4 linked regions of the Homo sapiens genome follow. The protein of the gene in region 2 purifies or fractionates together with the protein of the main gene of each other region. This does not show direct contact. Each region holds a gene or a part of one and is shown on either strand. Other genes may lie near its edges.

Region 1 (5,141 bases), on a different chromosome or scaffold from region 2:
AAGGAAGACAGCATCACCCAGCGCTTTCTACAGTTTTTCATACATAATGTCTGACTCAATTAAAAAAACAAAAATGGGCGTTATCAACAAATGAACCTAGAGAAAAAAGAAAAACAGAAATGGATCCGGAGGTGACCCATATAATAGAGTTATCAGATGCAAATGTCAACTATTCAAAAATATACTTGACAAAAGGAAAAAATTTCACTAGAGAACTAGAATAGTAAAAGGAATTAAGCAGACTCTAGAACTGAAAATTATAACTGAAATTAAGAACTCAATCTATGGGCTAAACAGCAGATTGGACACAAATGAAGAGGGGATGAGTGAGGTGGAAGATGGGTCAGTAAAAAAAATCTGGACTTTAGATTTTGGGCACAATAGCTCACACCTGTAATCCCAGTGCTTTGACATGTCAAGGTAGGAGGCTCACTTGAGGTCAGGAGTTTAAGAACAGCTTGGGCAAAATAGCAAGACCCTGCCTCTACAAAAAATTTAAAAATTAGCTGGGCACAGTGGCACATACCTATAGTCCCAGCTACTCAGAAGGCTGAGGCAGAAGGATTGCTTGAGCCCTGGAGTTTGAGGCTGCAGTGAACAGTGATCACGCGCGCCACTGCACTGCAGCCTCGGCAACAACAGGGTGCCTGTCTTTTTCTTTTTCCCCGAGACGGAGTTTCGCTCTTGCCACCCAGGCTGGAGTGCAATGGCGTGATCTTGGCTCACTGCAACCTCCGTCTCCCAGGTTCAAGTGAGTCTCCTGCCTCAGCCTCCCAAGTAGCTGGGATTACAGGCATGTGCCACCATGCCCGGCTATTTTTTGTATTTTTAGTAGAGACAGGGTTTCACCATGTTGGCCAGGCTGGTCTCGAACTCCTGACTTCAAGTGATTCACCCACCTTGGCCTCCCAAAGTGCTGGGATTACAGGCGTGAGCCACTGCACCCAGCCACCTGTCTCTTAAAAATTTTTATATACATATATATTTATATATATATATGTATGTACGTATATATATATACACACATATATACACACATGCTAGCTCATGCCTGTAATCCCAACACTTTCGGAGACTGAGGCAAGTGGATCACTTAAGTCCAGGAGTTTGAGACCAGTCTGTGCAACATGGCAAAACCCCACCTCCACTGAAAATACAGAAATTAGCCAGGTGTGGTGGCACGCACCTGTAGTCCCTGCTACTCAGGAGCTGAGGTGGGAGGATCGCTTGAGCCCAGAAGGCAGATGCTGCAGTGAGCTGAGACTGCACCACTACACTACAGCCTGGGCAACAGAGCGAGACCCTGTCCCAAAAATATACACACACACACATCCCCCACACACACACAGGCCGGACACGGTGGCTCACGCCTGTAGTCCCAACAGTTTAGGAGGCCAAGGCAGGAAGACTGCTTGAGCCCAAGAGTTCAAGACCACCCTGGGCAACAGAGAGACCCAGTCTCTAAAAACTAAATACACACACACACACACACACACACACACACACACACACACCTAGACACATACACAGAAAAGGTCTAGAAAATACGGAAAGGAGCACAAGAGACACATAGGACATGATAAAAGCCTAATGTATATCACACCATTGCACTCCAACTTGGGCAACAATAGCGAAACTCCATCTCAAAAAAAAAAAAAATGCCTAATGTACACAAAAATGGAGGCCCTCTGAGTGAAGATGAGTGGAAAATAGGAATATTTATAGAGAGAAGAGCCAAAACTTCCAAAATTGATTAGGAACCAGGCCACCAATACAACAAATACCAAGTTTTGCTAATGCCTGAAGCAAAGAAAATGTTACAAGCCACCAGAGGCAGCTTCAAATCCTGGTGTGAGGAATGAGTAGATGGTGAGATCTTGCTGTGTGTCTGATTAGTCCTTTCTCTGCCTTGCCTGTTTGAGCTTCAGCAGAATTGAAAATGGCTGGCAGTAAGGCTGGGAAGGACTCCAGAAAGGCCAACAAAGGCAGCTTCCCACTCACAAGAGAGCCAATTTGCAGTTCCTGGTGGGCCGTATTCACTGACACCTGAAATCTAGGACAATCAGTCCTGGACGTGTGGGCGCGACTGCCGCTGTGAATAGCACAGCCATCCTGGAGTACCTCACCGCAGAGGTACTTGAACTGGCAAGAAATGCGTCAAAAGACTTCACAGTAAAGCATACTACCCCTCATTACTTGCAACTTGCCATTCGTGGAGATAAAGAATTGGGCTCTCTCTTCAAGTCTACAATTGCTGGTAAAGGTGTCATTCCACACATCCACAAATCTCTAATTGGGAAGAAAGGACAACAGCAGACTGTCTAAAGGCTGCCTGGATTCCTTATTATCTCAGGACCCTAAACACTCTACCAGCTGTCCAGTGTGGCTGATTCCAGTGAACTATATCTCTGTGAAAAACACAATTCTGCCTTTCTGTAATTCTACTTGAGCAAGTTGGAAGTTTAATTAGCTTTCCAACCAACAAATTTCTACATTCAAGTCTTAACCATATTTGTTACTGTGGCTTCAAAGAAGCTATTGATTCTGAAGTAGTGGGTTTTGATTGAGTTGACTGTTTTCAAAAAACTGTTTGGATTTTAATTGTGATGGAGAGTTATAGTAACAAACATTTGGTTTTGCACAAACATTATTTCCACTCTGGTGGATAAACTCAGTAAAAGTCATATCCTCTCCAAAAAATAAAAATAAAAAGCAACCAGAGGGGAAAATAAAAAGAAGTATTACTTCAAATGGGACAACAATAACACCAAAAGCTGACTTGTCAAGAAAAAGGAAGCGAGCTAAAAAAACAATGAATTCGCTGCTACAAAATGGTGCAAGGAAATGACCACGATCCCAGTATTCTATACCCAGCAAAATCATCCTTCAAAACTGAAGGCAAATTGGGCACAGTGGCTCACACCTGTAATCCCAGCAGTTTGGGAGGCTGAGGCAGGCAGCTGCTTGAGCCAATGAGTTTGACCCCAGCCTGGCAAACATGGTGAAACATCACATTTAAAAAAAAAAAGGCCAGGCATGGTGGCTCACGCCTGTAATCCCAGCACTTTGGGAGGCTGACGAGGGCAGATCACCAGGTCAACAGATAGAGACCATCCTGGCCAACATGGTGAAACACCTTCTCTACTAAAAATACAAAAATTAGCTGGGCGTGGTGGCACGTGCTTGTAGTTCCAGCTACTCGGGCGGCTGAGGCAGGAGAATTGCTTGAACCCGGGAGGCGGTGGTTGCAGTGAGCCAAGATCACATCACTGCACTCCAGACCGGCGACAGAGCGAGACTCCATCTTAAAAAACAAAACAAAACAAAACAAAACAAAAACTAAAGGCAAAATAGAAAATTTTCAGGCAAACAAAAATGACAATTCATTATCCACAGATATGAACTCAAAGAAATACCGTAGAAAGTTCTTCAGGGAAAAGAAATATAGGCTGGGCGCAGTGGCTCACATCTGTAATCCCAGCACTTTGGAGGCTGAAGCAGGCAGATCACTTGAGGTCAGGAGCTTGAGACCAGCCTGGCCAACATGGTGAAACCCAGTCTCTACTAAAAATACAACAATTAGCCGGATGTGGTGGCATATGCCTATAGTCCCAGCTACTCAGAAGGCTGAGGCAAGAAAATCGCTCAAACATGGGAGATGGAGGTTGCAGTGCGCCAAGATCGTGCCACTGCACTTCAGCCTGGGCAACAGAGCGAGACTCTGTCTCAAAAAAGAAAAAAAGAAAAAAAAAAAACAAGAAATATAATCCCCGGCAGAAACATGAAACAACAATAAAGAATGAAGAGCAACAAAAATGGTAACTAAGAGGATAAATCTAAATAAACATTAACTGTACAAAATAATTATGATACTGCAAAAGTATATCTAAAATTAAAGTACATAAACTTGTAAGATGCAGCTAAAAGCGTGTAGTGGCTCACGCCTGGATCCCATTGTTTTGGGAGGCTAAGGGGGGAGGATCACCTGAGGCCAGGAGTTGAAGACCAGCTGGGGCAATACAGCAAGACGCTGTCTCTATTTTTAAAAATAAATATAAATTAAACTGAAATATATAAAACAATGACACAAAAGGTAGGAGGGAGTTAAATCCAGTTCAAGTATCTAAGGACTTGACCCTGGGAGACACAATGAGACTGTGCCTGGAAAAAAAAAAATATATATATATATATATATATATCTCAATCAAACAAAAAAAAAGCAAAAAAAAAAAAGTAGAAATTAATGCAATAGAAAACAAATGTAAGTAGAAAAAAATGTAAAGCCGAAAGTTGGTCCCTTAAAAGAACTTACAAAATTGACAAACCCCCAACAAGACTGATTAAGAGATAATATATGAATTACTGATATCAAGAATTATTAAAAGGGAACATCACTACAGATCTTGCAGATAATAAGGATTACAAACCACTTTAAACTTACAAATTGGAAAGTCTGGGTGGCCTGAACAAATCTCTAGCGGGGAAAAATGCTTTATCTAAATAGACACATGAAGAAATATTCAAAATCCTACATCTACCTATAAAATTAATTCTAAAATTTTTCCTTCTCACAAGGAAAACCCTGTACCAGCTGGTTTTGCCAAAGAATTATTTCAAACATTTAAGGAAGAAAACACAAATTTCGTAGGAACTCTTCTAGGGAGTAGAAAAAGAAGGAATACATTCCACCTTGTTTTAAGAAACCAGCATAACCTTGATACCAAATCCCAACAAGGGTACTGAAGGAAACTGAAATTATAAGTCAATCTTTCTCGTGAATATAAATGCAATAATCCTAAACAAAATACTACCAAATATAATCCAGTAAAAGGAGAATACATCAAGATCAGGTTGGAATTATTCTACAATTGTAAATTTTTTTTAAAAGGGAGGTGCTCTTTCTCAGGAGCTCCTGAAGTTGCTTCCCCAGGCTACAAACAATATGCAATTAAAAAAAAAAAAAAAAGCAAGGCGCAGTGGCGTGCGTCTATAATTCCAACTACTTGAGAGGCTGAGGTGGGAAGATCACTTTAGCCCAGGAGTTCAAGGCTACAGCGAGCTATGATGGTGCCACTGCACTCCGGGCTGGGTAATGGAGCAAGACCCCATCTCAAAAATAAACAAACAAAAACAGTTAAATT
Region 2 (5,141 bases):
GAAGCAGGTTTGGCCTGGGAAGTCAAGGTTCCAGTGAGCCGTTATTGCGCCAGTGCACTCCAGCCGGGGCAACAGTGTGAGACCAGGTCTCAAAAAAAACAAAAAAACAAAAAAACCCATATATGGAGGAAGTTTATTTTACGGGGGACAAAAAATGTTCTAAAATTCAATTGTAGGGATAGTTGTGCAACCCCATGAATATACTAAAAAATGCTGGATTATAAATTTGAAGTACAATTGTATCATATGTAAATTATAACTCAACAAAGCTGTTTAAAAAGAAAACCAAGTTTTAAAATGCATTGGCAGTTCTGCAAACATTTCTGCTCAATTCCAAAGAGTAAAAGGAACACACAAAATACATTTCTGCCAGACGTTCTATAAAAAAAAGATGGATAGCTGTCATCTAACAAGAACCAGGAGAAAAGCATTTTAATTAATATAGAATGTTATAAATTTACTCACAAAATATAAATTTTAAATTATCTTTTTACAGATATGCCTTAGCTTCCTAACTTTACATGCATTAAAGATATAATTTTTGTATGTATTATATATCTGTGTGACACAAATCTTTTTTAACAATGCTAATTTTATTATGTATTACTTCATATTAAGACAGTAATTAAAAATAAAAATAATTATGTCCACCTATTATGTTTTTAGCTCAAACATGCTTAACAAGGAAGAGAACTTGTGACTGTTACCAACTAAAAAAAAGAAATCTTATAGGACTTATTTACTATTTTGCAGCAAGATACCTTCCAGGTGAACTACTTCTAAAAAGACCTCCAAGTTCTCTCTCCTCATCCTACCATGTGTCTCCTTCCATCTACTGCAATTTAATGAGGCAGGGCCATTACTCCTCTCCCCAACATGGAATTTACAAACATCATCAAAAATGATTCAAGGGACAGCTGCTCTGGTGCTTATGCTTTGGAACTAACCTGAAGCTGAAAAGAAATAGCTCTGAAGGACAAAACCCTGACAGTAAAATTCAGTTTCAATACTAGGCAACATGTATCTTCTGAGCCCAGAGCAATAACCGTTATGTCTGGGTTTGCAACCTTCACAGCAAGGGCATAAAAACACGCACCTGGCCTGGATCGTTGTACCAAAGTTCATCATGAAGTCGGTCAGGGTGGGCCTTTTTGCGTTTGATTTCTGCAATAACGTCAAAAACTTCAGAGTCTGAGCTGCTAGAACAGGTGCTGTCCTCATCAGACTCACACTCGGATTCACTGGAACTCTCTAACAGGGGTTGGGAGAAAAATACAGAAATTGATGGAATTAACAAACTGGTTTTTTTTTTTCCCTGAGTTGGAGTCTCGCTCTGTCACCCAGGCTGGAGTGCAGTGCGCGATCTCAGCTCACTGCAAACTCCACCTCCCGAGTTCAAGTGATTCTCCTGCCTTAGCCTCCCGAGTAGCTGGGATTACAGGCGCCTGCCACCACACCCAGCTATTTTTTGTGTTTTTAGTAGAGACAGGATTTTGCCATGTTGACCAGGCTGGTCTCGAACTCCTGACCTCAGGTGAAACACCCGTCTCGGCCTCCTAAAGTGCTGGGATTATAGGCATGAGCCACCGCACCCGGCTGACAAACTGGTTTTTGTGGAGGCTTCCAAATGACCTAAACCTCTAAAGGTAAGAAGAGTTCTTTATTCTTCTAGAAAATACTTAAAGGCCTACTCTACACCAAATACTCTACTAAGCAACACCATAAAAAAAAAATATAGCCCATAATGCTAAGTCACAATCTAGTTGGGGAAGCAAAGAAAATAAAGATCTTTAGAGAGAAAGTAAGACTTGATGAGCAATGTCAGATAAAATGAAAAACCATAGTAGTAGTACGTAGTTTAACACTTAAGCTATGTAATGATCCATAAAAGGGCAGTTTCACTGGGATCCAGAAAGGCTGGTGATAATTTCAAAGAAGGAGCACATGTGACCCAGGCACTGCAACAGGATGGGAGAAGCATGATAAGGAGGAGAAAAGAAGAAAGGAATGAAGAGGGAGCATCGTAGGCAAAAGCGTGGAGCTAAGAACACAGTGGACTAGCTAGAGCGCGGGCCACACGGAAAAACACTGGGAGGTTAGGGGCTGGGAGTGCTGGGAATGCCACAGCGAAGGCTGGGAATGCAAGACCAAAGACTTGACATTTCTTTTCCCTCAATAACAGCAAGAGAAGGTGTTAGTCCTTAAAGTGACTGAATAAAAACAGACACAGACTTATGCTAACTGAAATATGCCAGTCACAAAAAGACAAATACTACATGATTCCACATATATGAGATGCCTGAGAGTCAAATTCATAGAGGAAGAAAGTAGCATAGTAGTAATAAGGGAACGGGGGAACTGGGGTCTGGGGAGTTATTCCTTAACAGGTCCAGAGTTTCAGTTTTATAAAAGGAAAACAGTTCTGGAGACTGGTTGCAAACAAGGTCATGTTGAACCCTATTGAACTGTACGCTTAAAAATAGTTAAGATGGTAAATTTTGTATTACTTATATTTTACCACAATTTGAAAAAAAAAAAAAACAGACCTAGAAGTTAGATTAATCCTACATAGTGAGATTCCATCTCCACAAAAAGAAAAATAATTAATTTTTAAAATAAATTAATCCTATAAGAGATTAACATAGTAGTAGCATAATGAAATCCAACATGGAGTTGTATTTACATGTACTGCATGAGATAGATGCTACTGTCTACTGTCATCCCTATTTTACAAATGGGAAAAATCTAAGGAGATTAACCTGTGGCCCAAGGTCACATATCAAGTAGGTGGTAGAGCAGGGATTCAAACCCAAGCCATCCAACTCCCAACTCAGGTGTCTTTGCCCAGTATGGATAACTGCCTCTCAGCGTGTGGGATGTAATGGAGGTGGGCAGATAAGAGCTAGAGAGAACATGTAGCTAAATGCACACTGAATGTCTCATCTGTGCATGGCATTCTGTTAGGGGCTAAGGATACAAAGTGATAAAAAGCAATTTCCATTCTCAAAGATCTCACAACCTACTTGGAACCTCAGAACATACACATGAAAAAATAGACCACCTTATGAAAAAGCTATGCAAACTGTCTACACAAGTGGAGAGAAACCTTCAAACAGAGCTGGGGTACAGTCGCTGTTTCCCTCATCAAACCAGGCGCACCTGGCAAAGGAGAGGGCCAAGGAAGGACACCTGTCCTCATGAGAGGCAGGGGGCATGGGCTCCTGCTCTCGGAAAGATGCTGAACTCTTCTGACTGGACAACTCTCCAAGGGGCACCCTTGTTAGCATGCCTTGCAAATGAGATCGCTGCTGTATTCTGCCAAATGAACTAAGGAAAAATACGATCAAAAAGAAGGAAGTTCTACTGCTATGTATCTTACTGACTGTAATTAAGAAAAATAAAATGAAAAAGAAGAAATCTCAATGTGGGACTCTCAAGGGTATTTCCCCAAAATTTAGGAATGAAGCTATAATCGCAAGGGTCTCAGGCTAGTTAGTGACTCTGACTCACCTAAATCTTCATCGAGCTTCGTCTTTGGAGGTTCCCACGGAGGCCGAGCAGCTTTGGCCTTTTCTTGCCTGCTCCCCAACTCCTCCTCAAATTTGTCATATAAGTCACGAAGCCTACTCGTTCCAACCACTGTAGAATCTCCCTTTTAAAAATAAAGGATCAATATTAGGAACTATATCAATAACGATCATATCAAAGATATGTAAGATCTCACAGGTAATCAAAGCATTTTTAACAGCAAGATGCTATTTTTCAACCCTAAATTTAACAAACATTTAAAAACAAAATGCTCAAGTACTGGCAATCATACTCTGAATCAAACACACACTTATCGCTGACACAGTCTTCAGGTAAATGTGCCTTGCCAACATTCAGAAACATTAGAACAGGCCAGGCGTGCTGGCTCACGCCTGTAATCCTAGCAACTTTGGGAGGCAGAGGCAGGAGGATTGCTCGAGGCCAGGAGTTCAAGACCAGCCTGGGCAACATAGCAAGACCCCACCTCTATGAAAAAGAAAAAAATTAGCCAGGTGGTGTGTGCCTGTGCTACCTGGGAGGCTAAGGCAGGAGAACTGTTTGAGCCCAAGAGTTGGAGGATGCAGTGAGCTATGACTATGACTGTGCCACTATACTCTAGCCTGGGTGACATAGAGAGACCTCATCTAAAAAAAAAAAAACAGAAAAGAAACATTAGAACAGTTCATCTATGCCCTATTAATATGACATTTTTTAAAAAATCATGACCCTCAGAGAATCATGACAACTGACATCAAATACCCTCATAGGGAATGTACACTTCCTACTGAAAATCACTGATAACCTATCTTCTCCTATATCAATCCATCGAGCAATAAGAAATATCCTATATATCCCCTCTCTCTCTCTCTCACACACACGCACACACACACACACACACTCTCATGCCTTAAACACGAGGACATAAACATGCACACACTCTCTCTCACACACACACAAACACATACCACAAACACGGGACTCTGCAACAGATTCCTAGAGAAAATTTTCCACTTTTCCTCACTCAATTTCCAGGTTGAAAATCACTTTACATCTCCACACTCTGACTTAGTAGCCTTAAAATGTAAAAACCAGACCTGTCAAATGTAAAATTAAGGCAAATCATAAAATCTGGTACCCAGAAGAGGGGATAATTCAGGCCCCATCTCATTGTTGGGAGTGGCGATGCCGGTATAGCTTTGACATTCTCACCACCTTCTCTGCACCACACAGACGACAAAACTCAAAGGCAAATGTCAGCCTTTTGAGTTTATCAGTCTTCCTCCTACACTGGAGTTTTAATATACTCATAACGATGTAATAAAAAACAACCAGCCCTGCCTGTTTAAACTCCCTGAACTTCAGTGTCTTCATCTTTATTGTTTTAAGAATAATAACACCTATGGCAGCCATTCTTCCCTTCTTCCTAATAGAAGCAGGATTCTGTAAGATTTGGAGAAGAGAACTCCTGATCTCTGGGAAGGTAGGCTGAGCCACCAGCCCCTCCCAAAGATGTCCATGTCCTAATCCCCAGAAATTAAATATATATGTTAACTTACATGGCAAAAAGGATTTGCAGCTGGGTGGACCCAATCTTAGAACAGGAATCCTTAAAA
Region 3 (5,141 bases), on a different chromosome or scaffold from region 2:
CCAAAGTGCTGGGATTATAGGCGTAAGCCACTGCGCCCGGCTGACATTACTTCTATTAAGGAGAGACAAATTTAAAGTAACAAGATAGCATTTTTATAAGCTTTTTTCCTTAATGACTTTAAAATGGACAAGTTGGATGCCAAACATGTGAAAATTCAAACAGTTAAGAGTGTACAATAAAAGTGTCCCTCCTTCCCCAGAAGCAAACACAGTTGCCAGTTTTTTCGATCCTTCAAGAAAATATTCTAGACATATACAGACAATCTTCACCTCTCCCCTCACTTTACACCTTGCTTTTCCACTTTGTGATAGACCTTAGAGATTAAGAAAACATGCCGGTTGCATGGCAAGAGTGATGCCATCTTGATGCAAAACCACTATGACCACCAATATCTGACTCCCGCATCCCAAAGTGTTGGGTAGCATAAATAATTCCACACAAAGATGTCTACCAAGCCTCCCCACCAGCTAGTGCTCATAAGTTTCACAAGAAAGTATAATGTGTGACCAGCTGCATGTTTAACCAAAAAAGCCTCTATAGAAAGCATACTTTCTGGAGGGTAAGTGCAGGGATCCACCATCTTGCAGCCACCCAAGACATCATTTCTGTTCCTAAGTCCCTATTAAATGTTTACTTCTGAGAAACTGAATTTGTCAGCTTCTATTCAATGAAATACTATGCAGCTATGCAAGAAGTCTGGTAAGTAAAGGAGTCAACGTATAAAACAGAAGATATACTTGTTTAAAAAGACAAAAGGGAAAATGTGCTAGTTATGCACAGCAATTTCTAGAAGGACTCAAGAAACTGGTATAGTCATGTACTGCATAACAGTGTTTTGTTCAATGATAAATCACACATATGACAGGGGCCCCGTAAGATTATGATGGAGCTGAAAAATTCTTATCACCAAGTGCAGGGCTCTGTAACCTGTTAGGAACCTGGGCACACAGGAAGAGGTGAGTGGCGAGCAAGAAAGCATTCTGGTCCGAGCTCCGCCTCCTGTGGGATCAGCAGCAGCATGAGATTCTTGTAGGAGTGTGAACTCGACTGTGAACTGTGAATGCGAGGGATCTAGGCTACACGCTCCTTATGTGTTTACTATATTTTTATCATTATTTCAGCGTATACTCCTTCTACTTCTAGAAAAATAAGTAACTAAAAAAAGCCTCAGGCAGGTATTCCAGAAAGCACTGTTACCATAGGAGATGACGGCCCCCATGCATGTTATTGCCCCTGAACACCTTACAGTGGGACAAGACGTGGAGGTGGAAGACAGTGATACTGAGGATCCTGACCCTGTGTAGGCCTAGGCTAACAGCTAATGTATTTTCATCTTAGCTTTCAACAAAAAAGTTTAAAAAGTTAAAAAAATAAAAAAATTTACAAACAGAAAAAAGACTATAGAATTAAGGATATAAACAAAGGAAATATTTTTGGATAGCAGTACAACATGTTTGTGTTTTAAGCTAAGTATTATTACAAAAGGAACAAAAAATAAAAAAGTTAATAAAGTAAAAAATAAAGTAAAAATAAAGTAAAAAAGTTACAGTAAGCTAAGGTTAATTTATTAAAGAAAAATATTTTAAATAAATGTAGTTAGCCTAAGTGAACAGTGTTTACAAAGCCTACATTAGTGTACAGTCATGTCCTAGGCCCTCATATTCATTCTCCACTCACTGGCTGACTCACCCACAGCAACTTCTAGTCCTGCAAGCTCCATTCATGGCAGGCGCCCTATACAGGTGTAGTATTTTTTTAATCCTTTATGCTGTCTTTTTACTGTATCTTTTTGCTGTTTAGATAGACACCAATACTTACCAGTGTGTTGCAGCTGCCCACAGTATTCACTACAGTTACATGCTGTACAGGTTTGTAGCCTAGGAGCAACCGGCCATACCATACAGCCTGTACGTGTGTAGGAGCCCATGCCATCTAGGTTTATGTAAATACACACTGATGTTCTCACAACAACAAAACCATGCTTCTCAGACCGCATCCCAGTTGCTAATGCAGGGCTATAGTAATATATGGGTCTAGGGAGGGAAACTAGAAGTCTGAGACGGAAATGAGACTTTTCATTGAAATGACTACTTTTTCAATCAGCTTGAATGATTTTTTTCAAGATGGAGTCTTGCTCTGTTGCTCAGGCTGGAGTGCAGTGGTGCGATCTCAGCTCACTGCAACCTCCGCCTCCCAGCTTCAATCAATTCTCCTGTCTGCCTCCCGAGTAGCTGGGATTACAGGCACCCGCTGCCACGCCCAGCTAATTTTTGTATTTTTAGTAGAGACAGGGTTTCCTCATATGGTCCGGCTGGTCTTGAACTCCCGACCTCAGGTAATCTACCTGCCTCAACTTCCCAAAGTGCTGGGATTACAGGCGTGAGCCACCATGTCTGGCCTGAATGATTTTTTAATGTACCTATACATTTCTTTAAAAATTAAAACTAGTCAAAAAATTAAAAAGGATCATGCTTACTGGAAGAGTGAACGCATTCACTCTTGGCAGGTCTATTGTCTTCTAAGAGGCCGTGGAGACAGGGCTGGACTTGTTTCCCTCAACTCGCCCCTTCTGTCCTACACAGCTAAAGCACACCCTTGTTTTCCCTGGGTTACAGACCATCCCCAACTGGTGACACATGCATTAGCCAGGACTAGGACACTCACTTGGGCTCGTGAGGAGGTCCGGACTGGTCGACCAACTTGAATTCAGCAGCAAAGCCATGGGAGCGGGCGTACTCCAAAAGGCCACCCACAGGGTTGGTGTTCAGGTATCTCACGAGCTCGCCAATCTTCCTGACCTTGTTGGGCATCATGGATTCCAAGTTATCAAGTGACTCTGAGATCATACCTTCAGGCTAAAGGAGAATCCATCAAACAGAGGAGCCATAAACACTTCAGGAAATGTTGAGGGAGTCACTGGCAATCTTAAACCACTCAGTTGCTAAAAATGACCTGTATCTTTTGAGTAGGAAAACGCCCTACCTGGTTATCAGAAGCCATGGAGTTGGTCGCCTCCCCATGCAGGGCCTTCATGGCTTCCTCTGCGGCCATCTGCTTTGCCACTTTCTTGCTGGGAGCACTCACACTGGGGAAAGTTTGGGCTCCCACTGCAACACAGTATTGGAACCTGACAGGAGATGAAGCACGTAGAAGGATTAAAATGGTTTTGACTGAGGAGCCTGACCTAGCCTCTGCCAGGCTGCCATCCTCCACTACTGGTAATTTCCTTGAACACATCACCTCTGTGCAGTCACATCTCATGCAGTCACTTCTGCCTTGAACAGCCAGTGTCTCTTAGCCTGGCTGACCCCTTTCAACATTTAAGCATCAACCTAGTTTCACCTCTTCCAGGAACACTTCTCTTGAACATGTGAGTCTATAGACCCACAGGCAGAGAGCTTCTCAGGTCCTGTACCTTTCTGTCCCACCAACAGTGAGTGACCTCCAAGCCGTGAACCTCCCTAGTGCTTATAGAGGAGATAGAGGGTGGGCCAGGAATTCCCTTTGAATTCCTAATCCCTAATTGTCTGCCTCACAAGCAGCAACCAGGACCTCAGAGCCCTCCTTTCCCCATTTTGAAACAGGAGAAATTGGTCAATCTGCCATCCCTGAGGAGGCAAGGAAGAAAATGTGTCTCTTTTTCTTTCTGAGAAAACCTCAGCTGGACAGAGGACACGTAGGACATACTTGGGTTCATGGGCAGGGCCTTCTTTGGACAGGAGACGGAATTCGCAGGAGTTCCCCAATTTGTGCATACACTCAAGCAGTGTGGTGACGGGGCTCTTCCCAGAAAAGAAGGATGTGGCTGAAGGGGTGGGGGTCTGGGACTCTGCAGTCTAGAGAAAATGAGAGACAAGAAGAAAACAAAACTAAGAAAACACTGGTTAGTCCATCACAGAAGAAGGGATGGGGATGGGGGACTTTATTCCCACCACCTGTCAAGGGGTTGGCTTCCCAAAGTTAAAGGGGCTGCTGGAGCTCTCATTCCGCATCTTCCAAGAGAGGAGATTGGCCTCAATAAACTTTCAGGTCTCTTTCAAGTCCGAAATTCTGTAAATCCAATTATGTTGGGACAGGAGCAGACAGAGGAGCTGGGTATGAGAGGAGGAAAGGTGGGCTGGCGAGATAGGGTAGAGGGAAGAGTGGGAAGCTGACTCCGAGATGGTGTCAGTTGTTTAGGCTGGGATTGCCTCAAGGGAGTCAGTTACAATCCAGACACTGACAGGGAACTGATCCTCCCAGATGGCAGGAGGACACCTACCTTCTCTGATTCTTTCTCTGTGGAATAGTGGGATGATTCTTCTGATTTTCCACTGTCCTTGGCTTTGGCTTCCTCTAGCAGAATTGTCATGGCTTTCATAGCTGCATCCTGCTTGGCCACTTTCTTGCTTCCAGCTTCAGCTGGGGGAAACTCTCGGCCATTGATGACAACCTGGAATTTAAATCTTGACGGAAAGTGATTAGATGTGTGAACAGGAGTCTAGGTCACTCCTTCTGCCTTCTCCAAAGAGACCTTCAACCTGGAATTTTCTGCTACGCTAAGGGGCTTTTCACTTGTGGAGATGAAGGGTAGGCCAAGGAACTCCTTCCTACTCCTTAAGGCTCAGCCTGTCCTTTCTTTTTGTAAACAAAGCAGCCAGTGACTCTTTCCCCATAGCTCAGTGAAGCAAACATAGGCACAGATGATAGGAAACTAGCTCAGGGGAAACCCACTATCTCTTTAACAATGAATTAAGATAAAACCCACACACACAAAAATGATGAGCCAAAAATTACCATTATAGTCTTGTGAGCAACCAAAAGACCTTCATTCTAAAGCAATTGTGGTAGACTGGCCTCCTCAAGGGAGGGTCCTAAAAGATAGTGAAGGCTTCTTATAACCCAGTCTCACACTCCCCACTACCTAGGGGGATCAGGCATCTGCCACTTATCAGTGGCCTGCTTTTGTCCCTAGACCTATATCACCGTAGTTTGTTATGAGTCACTCTATAGCACCATTTGTCTCCAGCTATTTTCTACATAACAAGGAATTTCCCCTTGTTATGTAGAAAATAAAAAAGCATTTGTTCTAGGCCTCTGGACTTAGCCTAGGCCCCCTTTGTTCAAGCTTTCAAATGTGGTGAGCTCTTTGCTCAGTCTG
Region 4 (5,141 bases), on a different chromosome or scaffold from region 2:
GCCTTCCCTTGCACATCTTGCTGTACTAAGCACAAAGAATGGACTGAAGTAGGGGGCTGGCAGGTCCCCAAGACTCACCATAGCCTTGGCCCCGGCTTCGGTTCTGCCGGTTACGCTTGTTTCGGTTGTTTCGGCGATTTGTCCGCTTCTCGGAGGGGGGCAGAAGCTTCCTTGCCTCCTCCTTGTACTTAGTGACAATGGGCTGAGCTTCCTCCTTCTCCAGCTCCCCATATGTCACCTCATCCATATAGTCGCATTTTTCAGGCAAAGAGAAGTTGGCTATAAGAGTAAGAGAGAAGCTTGTGGGCCTGAAAAGTGCATAGATGGGTAAGAACTCATTATGAAAACTCTACAAGAAGCATATGACTTTCTATGCCTCATCTATTACTGCACAAAAATGTGCTACGTTTATACCCACTCGCATCTAAATAATGACATTAACTTTTTCTACTCTAAGTTTTCCCTAAATTGTAACAGACCCAGGCAAAGGGCTATGTAGATTTACAAGTTCTTAAGTGATCTATAATAAATTAGGAGTGAACTGGGTTAAAGTTTCTCATCAGGACAGAAGCAGGTAACCAGAGGCTAAAAGTAACTGAGAAAGTTCTGGTGTTGGTCAGATAAGATGCTAAGAAATAACATTTTAAAAAGAGACTCAGAGATGGCCGGGCATGGTGGCTCACGCCTGTAATCCCAGCATTTTGGGAGGCCAAGGCAGGCGGACTGCTTGAGGTCAGGAGTTCGAGACCAGCCTGGCCAACATGGTGAAACCCTGTCTCTACTAAAAATACAACAATTAGCCAGGCATGGTGGCAGGTGCCTGTTATCCCAGCTACTCGGGAGGCTGAGTGCCACTGCACTCTGGCCTCGCTGACAGAAGAGAGACTCAATGAGAAACTGACCCAAGCCTAAAGGCATCTGCTCATCTATACAAGGAGAAGAGAAGACAAGAGTACAAGGGCTCTCATTTACCACCTGTCCGTGATAGGCCAGCACATCTGCCAGTCTCTGGACGTCAACTTCAGAAGCTGAGTCCCAGTGGAAATTCAGTTCAATGGGGCTCTCATGATTCTTAGATGAATCCAGTTGGCCCTCAATTTTATAAAACTGAGCTACATTTCTCTGAGTGCCTAAGTAAGAGTTATGGACTGGCATAGTTCATTCTCAGTAAACTCTGAGGATCTGGCTCATAGATATGCAAACCAGTTCCCATGCCTGGGGATTATCAGTATTTGAAGAGCAAGCAGTTGCTAGACTCGGTGGGATGTCAGGAACTAAAGGCAGCAATGGGAAAAAAAATCACGTTTTAAGGGAATAGGAGGATCAATCAAAATATTAATATTTCTTATGTAGACATTACTCTCTGTCTTATGTATTGCATTACAGACTTCAGCCAAATTAACAAACAAAACACAAACATAACGTGATACCAGAAATCAAGTTATACCAATGAGATCATTCACTCCAACTGCCATATTTTAATCTGAACCATAATAATCTCTCCCTGCGGCCAGGCGCAGTGGCACACACCTGTAATCCCAGCACTTTGGGAGGCCGAGGCGGGCAGATCACCTGAGGTCAGGAGTTCGAGACCAGCCTGACCAACATGGCGAAACCCTGTCTCTACTAAAAGTACAAAAATTAGCTGGGCGGGCACCTGTAATCCCAGCTACTCAAGAGGCTGAGGCAGGAGAATCGCTTGAACCCGGGAGGCGGAGGTTGCAGTGAGCCGAGATCGCGCCACTGTACTCCAACCTGGGCGACAAGGGCAAGACTCTGTCTTTAAAAAAAAAAAAAAAAAAAGCAGAATAAGAAATGTAGACAAACAGTAGATGTACCAGAAATATTTACTTAACAAATAACTGATTCACAGAAGCCTCTCCCTTGATCCTTTGAGTTTAAATTACCCTACGGTCACTTTTTTTTTTTTGAGACCGAGTCTTCTCACTCTGTTGTCCAGGCTGGAGTGCAGTGGCACAATCCCAGCTCACCGCAAACTCTGCCACCTAGGTTCAAGCAATTCTCTGCCTCAGCCTCCCGAGTAGCTGTGATTACAAGCGCCCACCACCATGCCCGACTAATTTTTTTTGTATTTTTAGTAGAGACAGGGTTTCACCATCTTGGCCAGGCTGGTTGTGAGCTCCTGACCTTGTAATCCACCCACCTCAACCTCCCAAAGTGCTGGGATTACAGGCGTCAGCCACCGCGCCTGGCTCACTATTTCCCTTTCTGTATCTTTTTCAAAACGAGCCAAGGCGGCTAGGCACAGCGGCGTATGCCTATAATCTAAGCACTTTAGGAGACCAAGGCGGGCAAATCACCTGAAGTCAGGAGTTCCAAGACCAGCCTGGGCAATATGGCGAAACCCCATCTCTACTAAAAATACAAAAATTAGCTAGGCATGGTGGCACATGCTTGTAATCTCAGCTACTTGGGAGGCTGAAGCAAGAGGATCACTTGAACCCAGGAGGTGGACGTTGCAGTGAGCTGAGATCACACCACTGCACTCCAGGCTGGGCAACAGGGTGAGACTCTGTCTCAAAACCAAACCAAAACAAACCAAGAAAACAATGAGTCAAAATTATTGCTTCTCTCTGTTCATTCATTTATCTACAAGTGCTCACGACCATTAAGTTCCTCTTCAGATTTACATTTTAGATGTAGAGTGTCACTCCAGTTGCTAAGAGACCTCAATAAGGTGTGCACTGACCAGGGATAAGATCTCTTTAACTTGTACAATTTTAGCCCACTGCTATGGTTTGAGTTATGTCCCACCAAAGTACAAGTGTTGAATACTTAATCCCCAATGAGCAGTATTGAGAGGGTGGGACTTTTAATGTGATTTGGTCATGAGGATTCCATCCTCATGAATAGATTAATGCCATTATTGTGAAAGTGGCTTTGTTATAAAAGCAAGTTCTCTCACATGTGCCCTCTTGCCTTTTGCCCTCCTGACATGGAATGATGCAGCAAGAAGGACCTCACCAGATGCTAATGCTATGCTCTTGGACTTCCTAGCCTCCAGAATGAGGGAAATAAACCTCTATTACTTACAAATTATGAAGTCTATGGTATTCTGTTATAGCAGCAGAAAATGGACTAAGACACCCACCTTTCATCTCCAGCATTATAGATTCAGGCACATCATCTCCCTCTACTTCCTTCCTCAACTCCAGCCTCTTCTTCCAATCTTCCTCATTAGGGACAACCACCACCACTTTCCGAGAGAAGGTCTTGAACAGCAATAGCTTCCGCCGTTGGCCAGAATTGTACACATTACACTAAGAACAGGAGGAATAACTGATGTTTAGGAAGAAAATTATCACTCAGATTTAACCAAAAGAATCAGTATCAGCTGGGCACGGTGGCTCACGCCTGTAATCCTAGCACTTTGGGAGGCCGAGGTGGGCAGATCATCTCAGGTCAGGAGTTCAAGACCAGCCTGGCCAACATGGTGAAACCTCATCTATACTAAAATACAAAAATTAACTCGGCATGATGGTGGGTGCTGTAATCCCAGCTATTTGGGAGGCTGAGACGGAAGAATCGCTTGAACCCAGGAGATGGTGGTTGCAGTGGGCTGAGATCACGCCACTGTACTCCAGCCTGGGTGGCGGCTGAGCAAGATTCCATCTCAAAAAAAAAAAAAAAAAAAAAAAAAAAAGGCCGGGCGTGACAGCTCACGCCTATAATCCTGTTATCCCAGCACTTTGGGAGGCTGAGGCAGGTAGATCATGAGGTCAGGAGATCAAGAGCATCCTGGCTAACACGATGAAACCCTGTCTCTACTAAAAATACAAAAAATTAGCCAGGCATGGTGGCGGGCACCTGTAGTCCCAGCTACTCGGGAGGCTGAGGCAGGAAAATAGCATGAACCTACGAGGCTGAGCTTGCAGTGAGCCGAGATAGCGCCACTGCACTCCAGCCTGGGCGACAGAGCGAGACTCGGTCTCAAAAAAAAAAAAAAAAAAAAAAAAGACTCAGTATCTTTGACAACTTAGACACGAGATAAAGGGTCAATACACATGATCTTCTTTAACTTTTCAAACTACATGACAGGTATTATCCTGTTTTGCTCATCAGGGAAACTGAGGTTCAGAAAGGATAAGGGACTTATCCAAGATCACAAACCAGAATGTGGTGGAGCCAGGAATTCAAATGAGTTCCAACTCTTTCCATTGTCTTTATTACATGTTTTATAGCCTGGGTCCATATATTTTCAAGTAAAAACACTAATTAGGGGTACCTCTGAGTTCAAAAAACATTGCAACCATAACACACAACCAGATGGTCATAATTAGGTAAGCTGACTCTGCTCCTTAATTCAGTCTCTCTTTATATACACATCCCACCTTGACTCTAGGCAATTTTATCAGATTAATACCTGATCAAGAATAAAGTTCCTCTTTGTCCGGGAAGCAATCTGGACCAGCTTACTAAGGCACTGGGAGGCTTGCTGAACTAAAAGGTCTCGGCTTTTGGGGTCCATCTCTGGCTCCTCGAGACCCTTCATCTGATTAGTTTGAGAGGAAGTGAAAAAAAAAAACAAAACACAAGTTATATTGCAAGTTAAAGCCCAAGAGTTATTGGTAAATGTCACCTCTTCAAATACTGAATCTATGATATCACTCTATTCCCATTCTTCAGTGCTGTGAATGTTGTCCATTTCCTGCAGTAGTCATTTCTATCTAGTCTTAACCTGGATGTATTTCAGATCTCATCTGCTTTCAGAAATTTGACAACACAGCAAAGAAAAAAAAAATCAATCCACCTAAAACGCATAGAGAAAAATCTCATTTCTCTATTTCTGGGACCCTTGTTCTCAGACACTTGAGACTAATTCTCCATTAAAGATAGGTTATAAGAGTCTCCAAATACTGTATCCGACAAATCCCCAACAGCAACTTACCCTCATTTGATTGAGCACAGTCTCAGCTCCCAGGACATTGTATCTTTTCTCAGGGTTTTCTTTTGCATATTTCAGTGCCCACTGGGTCTTTCCAGATCCGGGTAGTCCCACCATCAGAATCACCTGCAAAAAACAGAACCAGAAATATAATGAAAAATAAATGAGGGTCATGTTTATCAAAACCAATTTAAGAACATCCTCCCATTCCTGTTTGGTAACGCTCTGAGACCCT

The links. The genes of interacting proteins can lie anywhere in the genome.
Region 1: the proteins of DROSHA (region 2) and PPFIA1 purify together in Homo sapiens (affinity purification with mass spectrometry, with the first as the bait; one large-scale study listed by BioGRID). This does not show direct contact.
Region 3: the proteins of DROSHA (region 2) and ADAR purify together in Homo sapiens (affinity purification with western blotting, with the first as the bait; one study listed by BioGRID). This does not show direct contact.
Region 4: the proteins of DROSHA (region 2) and HNRNPUL2 purify together in Homo sapiens (affinity purification with mass spectrometry, with the first as the bait; one large-scale study listed by BioGRID). This does not show direct contact.

The regions. Positions count from the first base shown.
Region 1 is NC_000011.10:70,276,096-70,281,236, reverse strand, and holds part of PPFIA1 (liprin-alpha-1), read right to left. Parts: intron 2,623-5,141; exon of another isoform or gene 1,834-2,622; intron 1-1,833. UniProt on the Homo sapiens protein: May regulate the disassembly of focal adhesions. May localize receptor-like tyrosine phosphatases type 2A at specific sites on the plasma membrane, possibly regulating their interaction with the extracellular environment and their association with substrates.
Region 2 is NC_000005.10:31,507,525-31,512,665, forward strand, and holds part of DROSHA (ribonuclease 3), read right to left. Parts: intron 3,653-5,141; coding exon 3,511-3,652; intron 1,252-3,510; coding exon 1,097-1,251; intron 1-1,096. UniProt on the Homo sapiens protein: Ribonuclease III double-stranded (ds) RNA-specific endoribonuclease that is involved in the initial step of microRNA (miRNA) biogenesis.
Region 3 is NC_000001.11:154,594,140-154,599,280, forward strand, and holds part of ADAR (double-stranded RNA-specific adenosine deaminase), read right to left. Parts: intron 4,447-5,141; coding exon 4,263-4,446; intron 3,838-4,262; coding exon 3,689-3,837; intron 3,129-3,688; coding exon 2,984-3,128; intron 2,857-2,983; coding exon 2,666-2,856; intron 1-2,665. UniProt on the Homo sapiens protein: Catalyzes the hydrolytic deamination of adenosine to inosine in double-stranded RNA (dsRNA) referred to as A-to-I RNA editing.
Region 4 is NC_000011.10:62,716,911-62,722,051, forward strand, and holds part of HNRNPUL2 (heterogeneous nuclear ribonucleoprotein U-like protein 2), read right to left. Parts: intron 5,033-5,141; coding exon 4,910-5,032; intron 4,514-4,909; coding exon 4,385-4,513; intron 3,282-4,384; coding exon 3,113-3,281; intron 280-3,112; coding exon 79-279; intron 1-78.